Homo sapiens: one gene and its partners. The protein of the gene in region 2 purifies or fractionates together with the protein of the main gene of each other region. This does not show direct contact. Each region holds a gene or a part of one and is shown on either strand. Other genes may lie near its edges.

Region 1 (4,256 bases), on a different chromosome or scaffold from region 2:
AGAGCTTCCCTACTCATTTTAAAGGCTGGAAAGTGGGTGAGGATGGGGATGGAGATGGAGATGGACTGGCTAGTGGTCGTGCTACTCAGAAACCAGAGGAAACAGGAGACAGGGCTAGGAACAAGTTGTGGGAAGCTGGAAATACAGCTGAAAAGGCTTTTAAAAAATCACTAATTTACCCATACTAAGCACCAGTCACTTTACATAAATAATCTCACTCATCTTCACAGCAACTCTATTGAGGCCAGTGTAACTTTTTTTCCTAAAGACCTAGGGCTCATGGACCTGGTCCTCAGGCACTCTGACCCTAAAGCCAGAGCTCCTCACCATGAGCCATACCACACCAACTCTAGCTGGCTGACCTCACATCAATTCAGTTTCTGCATCTACTCCTGGGTCAGAGAGTCTCTCACTCTATTCCAGCTCTACCATTGGATTACCTTCCACCGCTGTTAGGGTATCTTGTTTCTTACTAGAGGCTCTTTCACTACGACTACTAGGTATAAGGGGAAAACAAGGTGCCCAACATAGGGGGGTGGGTACACAAAGATTCCAATTTCAGACGACTGTTCAAATTGGATGAATATGAGTGGTACTGAGAAAGGTCCCTCGCCTAAGGATGCCCCTCCCTAGGAGATGCCTCGGACTCAGGAAAATGCCCATTCCTTGGAGAGGTGTTGGCTTGGGAATGGCAACTACGACTGCGAAGAGACCAGCCAAACGTGGCGATGGGCCGCTGAGGCCACTAGGAAAGACAGGAACAGGGTTTTCGGGGATTCGGTACTTTCCACTGTGGCGTTTTCAGAAAGTGGAGGAGGGTTCGTAGTGTCACTTTTTCTTAACGGACGGTCTTTTAAAGGCTGTGCTCACGCGCCACTGCCGAGAAGAGTGCGGGGCTTGGGGAGCGGGGCGGGCTCTTGGCGTCAGGCCAAAAGAGACCACGTGGAAATCCATAAGTCAGGACCCAGGATAAGGTTCAGGTTTGAGGGAAGGGGCTTCTGTAATAAGGGGGCTGTTCCAGGGCATCCCTGCCGGTATTCTACATCCTTACTAAATCCTGCAGGAGCGCAAAGGCCGGAGTCTAGCGCTGGCGGGTGTCACTCCACGTTTATTTCGTGCGCCTTGTGGCTGGAGTGGGAAGAAAAGGAAATAATCGTTAACTTTGCCATTCCCCCTGTCTGTAAGCGGGAAGACGGTACCCAGGGCGAGGGAGACCGGCGTTTGCCCGCCCCTCCTTCTCCCTCTCTTCGCCTGGCGCGTCCGGGAGGCGGCGGCGCCAAAGCTCGCCGAAACGGCGCTGGCGGGCCGGGGCCCCGCGCTGGCGGCTCCCGGGGGAAGCCCGGTTGCCAGGTTGGGTTTAACGCCTCCGCCCGCGCGCAGATTGTCCCGGGCTGAAGGCGCCACCTCTGGCGCTCAGGCGCAAGCCACCCCTCCCGCGCGGCGGTCCTCCCCCTCCCCCGCCATCTCTCAGCACCTCCTCGGCAGCCCCTCGGCTCCTTCTCGGTCACGCGCCTGCCCCAACCTCTGGCTGGCTTCGGAGCCTGCAGGCACTGAAGGGAGTGCAGGGTGTGGATCGCTGCCCCAGCCCGGGCCGCCGCCTCCGAGCAGTCGGCACCCGGAGGCAGGAGGCACAATGCAGGCGTGCGGGGGCGGCGCGGCCGGCCGTCGGGCCTTCGACAGCATCTGCCCCAACAGAATGCTGGCACTGCCGGGCCGGGCGCTGCTCTGCAAGCCGGGGAAGCCGGAGAGGAAGGTGGGGCGGTTGATTCGGGCCGGGCGGGGTCTGCGCGCTCGGTGCCCCGAGGGCTGACCCGCGTTCAACGTTTGTGTGCCCGGCCAGTTCGCTCCTCCGCGGAAGTTCTTCCCCGGATGCACAGGCGGGAGCCCGGTGTCGGTGTACGAGGATCCCCCGGACGCCGAGCCCACAGCGCTGCCAGGTGAGCCCCGTGGCACCCACGCTACCCCTCGGGTTCCCCGCGCCGGGAGGGTGCGGCGCGCACAGCTCGGAGGAGCTTCTCTCCCCCGGGCTCTGACGTCCTAGCTGCGAGCCTGGCGGAGAGGCTCAGGGCCCGCCCGGCGCGTGTCTCCCGGTCTCCCCGCGCAGCCCTCACCACCATAGACCTGCAGGACCTCGCTGACTGCTCTTCGCTACTCGGGTCCGACGCGCCGCCTGGTGGTGACCTGGCCGCCTCGCAGGTACCTCCCCTTCTCGTGGAGCCTCGTGGTTTCACGCAACCCAAACCCTCCTCCGGGGTGGTGGTTTTAATTCCCCAAAAGCTCCTCTCGGGTCGGGAGCGCAGGCACACTCAGCTGGTGAGGGGAAGCATTGTGCAGGCACCTGAGCCTCCCAGATCAGAACTTCTACTTGCATCCTAGTATGTTATGAAGACCACATATCCACTGGAGCTGATTTGACCAACTTGATACAGTCGGGCTCATCTGGAGGCCTCCCCTCCTATTTCCCACCCTATCTACTCTTTGGAGCTGTGACAAGATTGCGCACTGAGAGACCAGGCGGGTGGGTGGGAGCAAAGTTGCGCACTGGGAACCTGTTGCATTCCTATCAGTTCTCCCAACACCCCCTTCCTGGCCATTTTCATTCCGTGGGTATATAAGAAGAGTGGAGGTTGATGGATAACTTCTCTATCAGGACTGGAAAAGAGCAAGAGAATTTGCAGTTGGAAGAAGCAGGAAGGACAAAGGACTCTGGAAGTAATCTTGCAGAAAATGTTCTTCTCTGCAGAGACAGTCCTTCAGCAATTGGGCGCTTTTTCAAAGTCCTGTTCAGCCCTTCGAAAAGCTCTAGTCACTTGCCGTGATGGGGCAAAAAGGCACTTGACTTTTTTCTTTTCCCCAAAACCTGTCTTCTTGCTCCCATCCCACTTCCGCCACTTGCTGGTGCTGACGCTTCCCAGGCAGAGAAGGGAGTCTCCCAGCACTGGTGTCTGGGAGGCCAGAAGCCTGGCTCATGGGTAGGACATGAAGTGCCCAGAGGGACAGGAGGTCTTAAACAGATGCAACCCCCAGGAAAAGTGCCAGTTTCAGCTTGCTGGCAATAGGTCTGGGGTTTGCAGACAGGCCCAGTATGGAACTCTACAAAGAATTGACCACCTCCCAGAACTGGGAGTGCTGGTGGAGCAAAACTCAGCCCTCCTCCAAGGGCCTCCTAGAACCTTGGGCTAGAGCCCAGAGACACTCAGTTTAGGTGGCTGCTGAGAGCAGAGATTGTTAAGGCAAGAGTTGGGAGTGGGCACTGCACTGCAGAGGACATTTAATTGTTCTTTTTAGATCTGGATGATCAAATAAGGAAAGATAATGCCTGAGTATCTTCCAACTGACCCAGAGGCCTAGGTCACTCCCTTACCCCAGCATGTTTATTGTGCAAGTAACAAAACCCAAGCAGCTCTCATTGGATGTTTGTCTAAGTATACAGATTCTACATTTGGCATCATGCTCTTTGTTAGAATTTTTTTCTTGCATTTGTAGTTGGAGAAATGCCAGATTTATCTAATTGGGGAGGTAGAATTCAAAGTTTCATTTTGTTTATTTTCTTTTTCTTTTTTTGAGACAAGGTCTCACTCTGTCACTCAGACTGGAGGGCAGTGACATGATCATGGCTCACTGCAACCTGGACCTCCCAGGCTCAGGCGATCCTCCCACCTCAGCCTCCCAAGTAGCCAGGACTACAGGTGCACACACCACGGCCAGCTAGTTTTTGGTTTGTCTGTACTTTTTGTACAGATGGGGATTCGCCATGTCACCCAAGCTGGTCTTGAACTCCTGTGCTCTAGCGATCTGTCTGCCTCAGCCTCCCAAAGTGCTGAGATTACAGGCATGAGCCACTATGCCCAGCCTCGAAGTTTCAAGGACAGAGCTCACATCAGATGGACCAAAAAATCCAGGAATTTTCCTGGGAAAGACAGAGCTAGTTCAGAGGAAAGAGGCCCCCAGGGGAGAAACACTCAGGGAGACCCCTGGGACACTCAGATCACATTTCCCCATTCCTTTCCTGCTGGGAAAGGTGGACAGAGAGAGGAAGTGCTCTAGAAATGTTTGAGGTTCAGAATGGACCAACACCTGGATTGGCATAAGAGGTAGCATTTCCAGGGCCCCAGTTCCTGAGTTGGCCTCCAGTCTCCTCATGAGACTTTTCTCAAATCCCTACCCAGGAGGAGACCTTCCAGTTATTGAAGAATGAGCCCCTTCAACCAGGGCAGCACTCATGCTCCAGGACTTGTCTGGGGCCCTCAGCCCTT
Region 2 (3,500 bases):
CGCGCCCGGCCTAGCTAACTCTTTTAAGTAGAGGTGTGACATTTGAGTTTTGAAAAGATGATGTTGGCAGCTTTTGCAGAAGGGAACATCGATAACCAGTTAGGTGTTTTGTTTTTGTTTTTTGAGACGGAGTTTTGCTTGTTGCCCAGGCTAGAGTGCAATGGCGCGACCTCAGCTCACTGTGACCTTGGCCTCCTGGGTTCAAGCAGTTCTTCTCCTCAGCCTCCCAAATAGCTGGGATTACAGGCGCGCCACCACACCCAGCTAATTTTTTGTTAGTAGACACGGGGTTTCACCATGTTGGCCAGGCTTGTCTTGAACTCCTGACCTCAGGGGATCCACCCACCTCGGCCTCCCAAAGTGCTGGGATTACAGGCGTGAGCCGCTGTGCCCAGCCCACCAGTTAGGTTTTTAAAAGCACTGGTACTGCAGTAAAACCACAGGTGTATGTCAAAAGCCTTTATGCTGGGGGAAAGCTGTGCCACTTGGGTTGAAGGAGGCAGGCCTCCAGCTTCTAAGTGCCCTGGGGCCTCTGTAGAGGGCCATGAGGGGCCACAGGATGCAGGGAGCTGGAGCTAGGCCCTGGTAGTCACCATGGAGGAGGAGAAACAAGGACATCCAAGACCTGAGGCTGGAAGGTTCTGGAGAGAACACAAGAGAAAAACAACTCCGGAGCTTCCAACCTCAAGTAGGGCACAGGGAGACAAGCGGGTGGGAAAAGGCCACAAATGGCTCCATGTGAGTGAGGGGCAGAAAGAAGAGGATGAGGTCAGTCCTCTGGGGGTGTCATCTTTGAACAGCAGTTGACAGGCAGTGGGTGTGAAGGTCTATATGGCAAGGAGCTACACACGAGGGAGGAGAGAGGTACTCTGAAAAGTTTGCAGAGTGGGTAGGAAATGACTGTGGAGCAGTGAGGAGAGTGATCAGTGATGGTGTAGTAGTTAGAGAGTGAGTGGTGGTGGACTTGATGGAGAGTGAGTGGTGGTGCTGGAGTGGTGGAGAGTGAGTGGTGATGGTAGATTGGACGGAGAGTGAGTGTGGTAGACTCGGGGACAGTGAGTGGTGATGGTAGATTGGATGGAGAGTGAGTGGTGGTAGGACTGGGGGAGAGAGAGTGGTGATGGTGGTGTAGGTGGAGAGTGAGTGGTGATGGTGGAGTTGGTAGAGTGAGTGTGGTGATGGTGTTGTGGGTGGAGAGTGAGTGATGGTAGTGTTGTGGGTGGACAGTGAGTGGTGATGGTGGTAGACTGGAGGAGAGTGAGTGTGGTGATGGTGTTGTGGGTGGAGAGTGAGTGGCGGTGCTGGAGTGGGTGATGTAGGGTCACAGAAGGAGGAAACAGCCTAGAAGGTGGCTGCCTTTGATGGTCCTTGAGTGGGCCCAGCTGGAGAAATGGTGAGAAGGATTAGGTTTCTGTTGTCTTGCTCAGGGACTTTTTATTTTATTGCACTTATTTGAATTAAAATGGTAAATTCAAATGGAATATTTGTGTTTATACTCTGTTAAGTGGGAGAATGTGGAGAACAGGAGTCAGCTGCCATACGGCCACCTGGCTGGCTCCGGGAACCTGAGGCCTGGTCTTGCCCAGCAGGAGCGCTGGCATAGCATGGATCACTTACAGAAATTTATGATCAAGATTATGGGCTGCTCCTGGCAATATGGGGAGGATTTCCTTGCTGTGGGGACTGTCTGTTTCCATGCCTGGCCCACCCGGTCTGTGATAGCCTCAGGTGCAGTCCTGTCTTAAGTTTGGAGACACCCTGGGAGGTCCGTACAGACTCTTTGAGTTTCTGAACTGTCCTCGAAACATCTCAGGCCCTCCGCCTCAGGGCCTAGGGAGGCTGTCCTCTGGTTCCTGAACAGGGTGGCTCTGACCCGCAGATCTGTGGGCTCCCGTTGCAGGTACCGGTGGTGCTCGGAACCGTCCTCAGATTCAGTCTTGGAAGGTGCTTTGGCACCTCCTTAGAGTCGGACAGACCCTTGTCACGAGTCAGTCCAGCTGCAGGGGCTCAAGTTGTTCTAGAGCTGGGCTGGCAGGGCCCTTGGGTGAGGGAGTGTGGCTTGGCACTGGCATCTCAGCCTGCGGCCAAGTTTCCTGCCTGCCCAGGCAGCATGACCCTTGGTGGGATCAGGCAGAGCTCTGCCTCTCCCCTCCCTACCTCGGAACATCCTGTCGTCACACACGATTGTCCAGTGTCATGAAAGTTTGTAAGTGGGAAGGCAGGCAGATGATGAATTCATCAAACATTACAGGGATGCTTTTGCTGTAAGACTTCGGGATGTAGCCCGTGTGGGGCTGTTTCTGGGGTCCCGTTCGCCTCTCCAAGCTCCTCCTGCCATTGGTAAAGATGCAGGGCATCTGAACTCGCTCTTGGGCTGTGCGGGCACTTGGACCTGGTCAGCTCCCTGTGCAGAGAACGTGGCTGTGGACGTCACTGCCCGGTATTCACGTGCCTTGGTTGTGAAAGCCGTTCTGTGGTGCCTGTTTGTGTCCTGTGAGTTTATGGGGAAATCCTGAAATTGAGAGCTGGGGACCAAGAGAACTGTGTGCGTCCCACCATGGAGGCGTTTGAGTGATGCTGTCACGAGGCTCTGCTAATGCCAAGAGGGGACCAATGAGCTCCTCTAAGGGTCTACCACCAGGTGTCCTTTTACAGACCTGGATGGTGAAGTTCAGGCCTGAAGAGGTGAACCTGATGCAGCAACAAACTGCTGTTTCCTTCAGTGCTTGAAGGAGTGAGTTCTGGGAACAGGATTCAGCGACTCAGGCCTTCTTTTGTCCTCATAAAGAAACAACTTTACATTTGAGGTTAAGAAGGTTGTCAGTTTAGCCCCCTCAGGTTTAAGTGTTGAAGAAATCTATGATGACGTGCTTGTTTTTACAAGAGTCTTTTCATATTTCAGGATTTTTTTTTTCTACATAGGATGAGGTTAGAGAAACTCTGAAGGGATATTAAAAATTAGAAAATTATAGGTTGGGCCGGGCGCAGTGGCTCACGCCTGTAATCCCAGCACTTTGGGAGGCCGAGGCAGGTGGATCACAAGGTCAGGAGATTGAGACCATCCTGGCTAAGAGGGTGAAACCCCTTCTCCACTAAAAATACAAAAAATTAGCCAGGCATGGTGGTGGGCGCCTGTAGTCCCAGCTACTGGGGAGGCTGAGTTAGGAGAATGGCGTGAACTCGGGAGGCGGAGCTTGCAGTGAGCAGAGATCACGCCACTGCACTCCAGCCTGGGCGACAGAGCGAGACTCTGTCTCAAAAAAAAAAAAAAAAAAAAAGAAAAAGAAAATTATAGGTTAATTAAAAGTTTTGCCCCTGCTGGGCACGGTGGCTCATGCCTGTAATCCCGGAGGCCAAGGCGGGTGGATCACCTGAGGTCAGGAGTTCGAGACCAGTCTGGCCAACATGGCAAAACCCTGTCTCTACTAAACATACAGAAATTAGCTGGGCGTGGTGGCGGGCGCCTGTAATCCCAGCTACTCTCGAGGCTGAGAAGGAGA
Region 3 (3,500 bases), on a different chromosome or scaffold from region 2:
GTGGGTCCAGGGTGTGATGGGCCATAGTCATCTGCTACCTGTCTTCCCCCAGATGGTGCCCACAGAACTTGTGGAGAAGGAGTTCTGGAGGCTGGTAAATAGCATTGAGGAAGATGTGACTGTTGAGTATGGAGCTGACATCCATTCCAAAGAATTTGGCAGCGGTTTCCCTGTCAGTGACAGTAAACGGCACCTAACCCCCGAAGAGGAGGTGAGTGGATGATTCATGGTTACGTGTCAGCTGTGTGAGCTTAGGCAAATCATTTAGTATCTGAAAAACTCAGTATCTCTGTAAGATGAGGATAATTATGCCTGTCTTATGTAGCCATGAGATTTAGATGAGATGAAAGAAAACAGTCTGGTACCTGGCATGTACAAACATGAGATGGGTTCTTTCGCCTCTGTGAGCCCATTTCCTTATCTTTAAAATGGGGATAATATCTACTTTGCAAATTTGTTATAAAAATTAAATGAGAAGGTATATGAGATCCTGGCTCATCCATAAGTAGTGTTCAGGGAGTGGGGTTTGTATGCACAGGAGAAAATGAGGGCCTAGTTGTGCTTCCAAGAAAGGGTACATTTTGATCCAGAGCAGGATTTTTTTAACTTGCAGGTATTTTGGTAGGTGGATATATCGGTAAACTTCGTAGAAATTGAAGTGAATACAATTGAAATTTTGTGTGTATGCTTTTTGGTGGAGAGGTAGGGAGAAAACCTATATGTTTCTTAAGATGTTTCAAAAAAGTCTCTGACCTCAAAATTAAGGTTCCCTAGGCTAAAGAAAATGACTTAAGATCTCAGTTCCTTAGCATAACCCTCATGCCCTTTTTACAAATACCTGACCTGGCAGGAGTATGCTACCAGTGGTTGGAACCTAAATGTGATGCCGGTGTTGGAACAGTCTGTACTGTGCCACATCAATGCAGATATCTCTGGCATGAAGGTGCCCTGGCTCTACGTGGGCATGGTCTTCTCAGCCTTTTGCTGGCATATTGAGGATCACTGGAGTTACTCCATTAACTACCTCCACTGGTGAGTGGGACCCTGGGGAGCCAGGGAATCAAGTCAGTGTGGGCTCCCTGCATGACCAAGGTGTGATTTACTGTGTGTGTCCCTTTTCCACTTGTGCAGGGGTGAGCCGAAGACCTGGTATGGGGTGCCCTCACTTGCAGCAGAACATTTGGAAGAAGTGATGAAGAAGCTGACACCTGAACTATTTGATAGCCAGCCTGACCTCCTGCACCAACTTGTCACCCTCATGAATCCCAACACCCTCATGTCCCATGGTGTGCCAGTGAGTACCCAGGCAACAGGGACAAGCGGCAGGAGTGATTTAGTGATGTCCTTTGTGATGGTGGTGGTGGCGGTGGTTGTCATCTGTATTCTGCCCCTGGCCTTTCTTCATTGCTGTTCTTAATTGGGCTACGGGTTTGACTAGTCTAGTAGAGACCCAAAATAATAGTGATTAGATGCACCGTATGATGGTATGCCCTCTGGGCCATGTGTTTGACGGTAACAGCTAAGGGGTGGCTTATTATCACATCTACATTCCAGCCAGTGGAAGAGGGAAGTGGGGAAGTGCAGGGCTAGACAAATCTTTTAAAGGCACACATCATTTCCATTCACCTTCTGTTAGTAAAAACTTGGTCATATGACCACATCTAGCTGCAGGGAAAACTGGGAAATGTAATTCTTATTTTGGATGGTCAAGTACCACTTAAAACTGGAGGTCATGTTGTTATGACAGAAGACAAGAATGAATATCGAGGTACAACTAGCAGCCTCTGCCATACTTTGTATACTCTTACCCTTCTCAGAGCAGTGGATAGGTCTTTTTATTTAACAGGTCAAAAGTTGAACCCAGAGTTCTGGTCTATCCTCTGTGTACTTCTTTCTTACCCTTTAAAACATTTTGCTGGGTATACAACATGGCTTACCTGTGAGAGACTTTATATTCCTGGGAATTTCTAGCATTGATTAGCATCAGCCAGTTTTCTGGTGTGGATCTTAAAACAGCCTGATCACTAGTCCTGTAAGAACAGGAATTAGTAGATCCTCTATCTCTGCTTTAAGTATTATCCGGGGCTGCTACTCTTCCCTACACCCTTCCACGCTCTTTGGCCTTGGACACATTACCACTTACTCTAATGTATGAGATAGTCAATAAATACTGAATTAATGTCTCCTTCAGATATTCCTAGATATCTGTACAGTAGGGCTTTGGACTAGGTCAGTGGTTCTCACCTGCATTTCTTTTTGCCTTCTCCTTGTTTTGGTATACTATATGCCCCATGAGTAATATTTTTTTATTATAAAATTTAGTGATATTTAACCAAGGACTTGGGATATCTAGGGAATTGGACAGAAGGAGGTGTCCTATAACAGTTCAGGCAATCTTCCTCCACTCAGGGAGTTATCCTTTTCTCTCTCTACCTCACCCCATTTAAGGATGATGATCAAGGGCTTGAGTTCTGCTGCTTTACAAGTAGACATGGGGTCTGACTTTCCTTAGACTTCTCTCTTCCTGACCCATAGCACAGCATCAGTCCTTGTCTATAATGCCATGGAAAACTGTAAAAGAGGATTCTCTTGGCCAGGCACGGTGGCTCACGCCTGTAATCCCAGCACTTTGGGAGGCCAAGGCAGTCAGATCACTTGAGGTCAGGAGTTCAAAACCAGCTTGGCCGACACGGTGAAACCCCAGTCTCTACTAAAAATACAAAAATTAGCCAGGTATGGTGGCGCACGCCTGTAATCCCAGCTACTCAGGATCAGGAGGCAGGAGAATCGCTTGAACCCGGGAGGCAGAGGTTGCAGTGAGCCGAGATTGTACCACTGCACTCCAGCCTGGGCAACATAGTGAGACCCTGTCTCAAAAAAAAAAAAAAAAAAAAAAAAAAAAGAGCCGGGTGTGGTGGCTCATGCCTGTAATCCCAGCACTTTGGGAGGCTGAGGCGGCCGGATCACCTGAGGTCAGGAGTTCGAGACCAGCCTGGCCAACATGGTGAAACCTCGTCTCTAATAAAAATACAGAATTAGCCGGGCGTGGTGGCACGTGCCTGTAGTCCCAGCTACTGGGGAGGCTGAGGCGGGAGAATCACTTGAACCCAGGAGGCGGAGGTTGCAGTGAGCCGAGATCGTGCCATTGCATTCCAGCCTGGGCAACAGGTGGAGAGACTCCATTTCAAAAAAAAAAAAAAAAAAAAAAGGATTCTCTGAAGGATTTGGGTAGCTAAGAGGCATATATATATATATGTGTGTGTGTATATATATATATATATATATATATATGTATGTGTATATATATGTATATATACATATGCAGAAGGTCATGGAGCTGTTTAGTCCTTACCGCTTTTTAAAAAACTTTATCACAGAATCCAAAATACGTGCTTTTTGCTTACACCTCCACAGCATTTCTCCTGCTCGTGGCTCATCATCTTCTCTGGCCAGCTGCTACTTTACCACCCAGCCCTCTGTCTGCCCTGCCCTTCCTATAG
Region 4 (3,500 bases), on a different chromosome or scaffold from region 2:
GTTTTCCTGTTAGTGCCTTAGTTCTTCCTTTGAAGTACATGTTATATTCATCCCCCTTTCCCGCTTTTTTTCCATTGTCACAATCTTGATCCAAACATTCATTTTAAACCTGTGTTTGATTCTTTCTTGGCCCTTGCTCAGCTTTTTACATTATACTGTGAGACAAATTTGAAAATATATTCATTGTAAGACTTACTAAAATCTACGGAAATTCTTGGTTGCTTTCTAAAGCTTTCCATAGAAATTCAAATTCATTAGATGATTCCAGAATTGTGTTTTCTGTATTCATTCCTTGAAGACATTTATAGGCCACTGTGCAAGGTGCTGGGGATACCTAGGTGAGCAAAAGAGTCTTACAGCACCAAAGATTAATGAAGTCCTCTTTAGGAAAGCTATGCTTAAGCTAAGAAGTGAAAGATGAGTTACCTGAGTAATGGATTAAACACTCTTCTTTCTGTTTGTGGAGAAGTAATTAGGAGAGGTGGCGGCAAGAGTGGAAATAAAACCAATTTATACAGCATTATCTGAAGTGCTTGAAATTAGTAGAATGACGGAAACATACATATCATTCCATTGATTCCACTATCTCAGGTATTCAGTGAAAATGGTATGCTTCAGTTTTTTCACGATAGGGAGCTAGTGTATTTTCCATTTATACAGAGTTAATGAGCTAGATTTATATTGTATGGGTTCATAGAACATACCAATGTCTTTGTTGTCAGCAGACTATTTTGCTGCCTCTTAAAATAATTTTATTTACATACTTTTGAAAAATTAACTACTAGAGTTATAGTTCACTTTCTAATTTTACTATATTTTTGAGCTTTCCATATTTGTCATATTACTTTTCAGTTTTTTCCTATGTAAATTATTTCCAATTTAGATCCCACGTATGTTTAAAAATATTTTTATTAACTTCCAAGTATTTTGAAGTTTTCACTAGTACAAAGTATAATGAAGAAAAGATGCTATATTAGTGTGGGTTTTTTTCAGAAAGTGAAATTTTAAAAATATTTTTTTAAATATGATAGGCAAATTTTAAGTTACAAGTCCTAATTTTTATAAAATATTTTTATTATAAATCTATTTAATATTTTGCTGATGAATGAAGTCCCTAAGTCTGGAAATCACCGGCCTTATTGTACTGATACTGCTCTGGAGTATGTGACCAGTTAGATTGTATTACTCTTGATCAACACATACCTCTTTAATTTTCAATGGGAGACTTTTTCAAAATATGTCAACTCACTTTTCCTAAAACTAGCTCATTTTCTTTAATTCCAGTCTCTCCTTTAAGCTTATGTCAGAGACCTGCCAATTGAATTGTATACATTGGTTGTGACATGAGAGAATAGTGGTTTGCTAATCTCAACTACTTTTTAATAGAATCATTTAATTTCAAAATTTACTGGCTACTTCAGAGAACCTGTGTGACTTTTACCTATGTGTTAAAACCAATTAAACCAGGGCCAAAGGATGGCCTTTATTGTGTTATTGTGTTTGTCTGTGTAATTAGGAATTTTCCAAGCTCTAATAAGGCCTGCTACATTTTAAAGTAGCAAAATTTCAGAATATCAGAAGATTTCAGACTATTTGCAGTTGGTAAACAGTGGAATTTAATGCTTGGTTGTTACTGAGCCCACCCTTCCCAGAAGAATTACGATTAACTGTAGAGGAAAGTCCTTTAAAACTTGGTTATAGCAGAAGTTTGAGATGTTTTCCACCAATACTTTCTATGAATTAAATAAGTCATGTAGGGCAATTTGGAATTGAAAAGAGCTAGAAGTACAGCCATATGACGTTACAACTAAGTTCTCTGTATTTTCTGTGGTGATTTCTAATATGCTTTCTAAAGACTAGTAATTTATTAGATGGGTAGGCAGCCATTGTTGATTAGATGTTTTTTGTTGTCTGGAGATTTGGGCATGATGTGTTTATTATTTAAATCAATTGTCATAGGGTAACAATTTGTGCCCTCTTTTTTAAGGATATGGTGGTGGTTTTAATGAAAGAGAAAATGTTGAATATATAGAAAGAGAAGAATCTGATGGTGAATATGATGAGGTAAGCTATATTTTGGTGTTCAGGTTGAATATAAATTAGAAAAACAGAAAAAATTCTTAAATGCAAAGGAAAACAAACTTTTTTTTAAGTGCAATTTGAGTCTTCAGCAACTGATCATTTTCAGGAAATCATAAATATCTAAAATAATTTTTTAGAAAATGTATTAAGTTTAATGCATTATCAGCTGACAAGCATTTTGAAATTGTTTTTCTCTAGTTTGGACGTAAAAAGAAAAAATACAGAGGGAAAGCAGTTGGTCCTGCATCTATATTAAAGGAAGTTGAAGATAAAGAATCAGAGGGAGAAGAAGAGGATGAGGATGAAGATCTTTCTAAATATAAGTTAGATGAGGTGAACAATTTTCTTGTCCTATTTCCCTTTTGTCTTATTGGAGTTATACCATAACATGAATGCTTTTGACAGCCTCAGACACTTGGTGAAAATATATTCTGTGTTTTCATTTGTTCTCACAAAGGTTTTGGATTTCCACTCTGCCAAGTACTATTTGTACTTGGAACACTACTGTTCTGGAGATACAGTGGTGACCGAAACAGAACCAGTTTTCTCTTACACAGTTCTAGAGGAGGAAATATATAAATAGGTAATTTTGATAGCAGTAACGTTATGAAGACACATGATGTGATAACAGTTTAAAAGCAACTTTGGTTTTGCCGATGGATAATGTCTAAGGAGGTGAAGTTTGAGCTGAAACTTGAATGATAGGAAGGAGCCAGCAATAAGAGCCGAGGTGAGAGCACATTTAGGCAGAGAACAGCAAATACGGGTTCCCTAAATAGGAGATAAGCCAGCAGCCTTCAAAAATACCATACATAGGCCAGTATAGTTAGAGCAGAGGGGAGAATGAGATGAGGGGGACAGCACACATTTCAGGTCTGGTGATACTTGTTCTGTCAGGCCAGAGTGTAAGTTTTATGCCATGTTAAGGGTACCTTAGAGCCTGATCATAAGAGGTCTTGGAATGCAACTAAAGAAATAATAAGCCAGTTTTGAAGTTTTTAAGAAAAAAGTGAGATGTGTTTATCTGTCCTGTGTTTCAGAGTGATGACTGTCAGTATATTGAGATACTAGAGAGGCAGAATGGATCTTCAGATTTGAGGAGACCAGCTAAGAGGTTACTATAATATGCTAGAGAATAAGGAACAGAGTGTCTAAGACTAAAAATGGTGATTTCAAGGACTTTTAAGGAGGTGGACTTGAAAATTCTTGGGTGATGCATAAGTGTGACAGAAAAAGTGTGTATGGCCTCCAGGTTTATGTCTGTGCAATACCTGAGACAAAGTTGTCAAGTCTCTATTTGAGATGAGTTTAGTAGGTGAATTTTAGAATTCAGAATTAATTTGCTGAGATACCTGTGATATATGCATATGGAGGTGCTCAGTACACCTAACTGTTTTATCTTTCCTGGTAGGTAACAC

The links.
Region 1: the proteins of TFDP1 (region 2) and MCIDAS purify together in Homo sapiens (affinity purification with mass spectrometry; one large-scale study listed by BioGRID and IntAct). This does not show direct contact.
Region 3: the proteins of TFDP1 (region 2) and KDM5C purify together in Homo sapiens (tandem affinity purification; one study listed by IntAct). This does not show direct contact.
Region 4: the proteins of TFDP1 (region 2) and ZRANB2 purify together in Homo sapiens (affinity purification with mass spectrometry; one large-scale study listed by BioGRID and IntAct). This does not show direct contact.

What each region holds. Positions count from the first base shown.
Region 1 is NC_000005.10:55,224,516-55,228,771, reverse strand, and holds the start of MCIDAS (multicilin), read left to right. Parts: upstream 1-1,456; 5' UTR 1,457-1,633; coding exon 1,634-1,753; exon of another isoform or gene 1,754-1,840; coding exon 1,841-1,937; exon of another isoform or gene 1,938-2,104; coding exon 2,105-2,196; intron 2,197-4,256. UniProt on the Homo sapiens protein: Transcription regulator specifically required for multiciliate cell differentiation. Acts in a multiprotein complex containing E2F4 and E2F5 that binds and activates genes required for centriole biogenesis.
Region 2 is NC_000013.11:113,587,753-113,591,252, forward strand, and holds part of TFDP1 (transcription factor Dp-1), read left to right. Parts: intron 1-3,500. UniProt on the Homo sapiens protein: Can stimulate E2F-dependent transcription.
Region 3 is NC_000023.11:53,208,208-53,211,707, reverse strand, and holds part of KDM5C (lysine-specific demethylase 5C), read left to right. Parts: intron 1-52; coding exon 53-211; intron 212-850; coding exon 851-1,032; intron 1,033-1,131; coding exon 1,132-1,294; intron 1,295-3,500. UniProt on the Homo sapiens protein: Histone demethylase that specifically demethylates 'Lys-4' of histone H3, thereby playing a central role in histone code. Does not demethylate histone H3 'Lys-9', H3 'Lys-27', H3 'Lys-36', H3 'Lys-79' or H4 'Lys-20'.
Region 4 is NC_000001.11:71,071,036-71,074,535, reverse strand, and holds part of ZRANB2 (zinc finger Ran-binding domain-containing protein 2), read left to right. Parts: intron 1-1,987; coding exon 1,988-2,064; intron 2,065-2,280; coding exon 2,281-2,415; intron 2,416-3,500. UniProt on the Homo sapiens protein: Splice factor required for alternative splicing of TRA2B/SFRS10 transcripts. Binds to ssRNA containing the consensus sequence 5'-AGGUAA-3'. May interfere with constitutive 5'-splice site selection.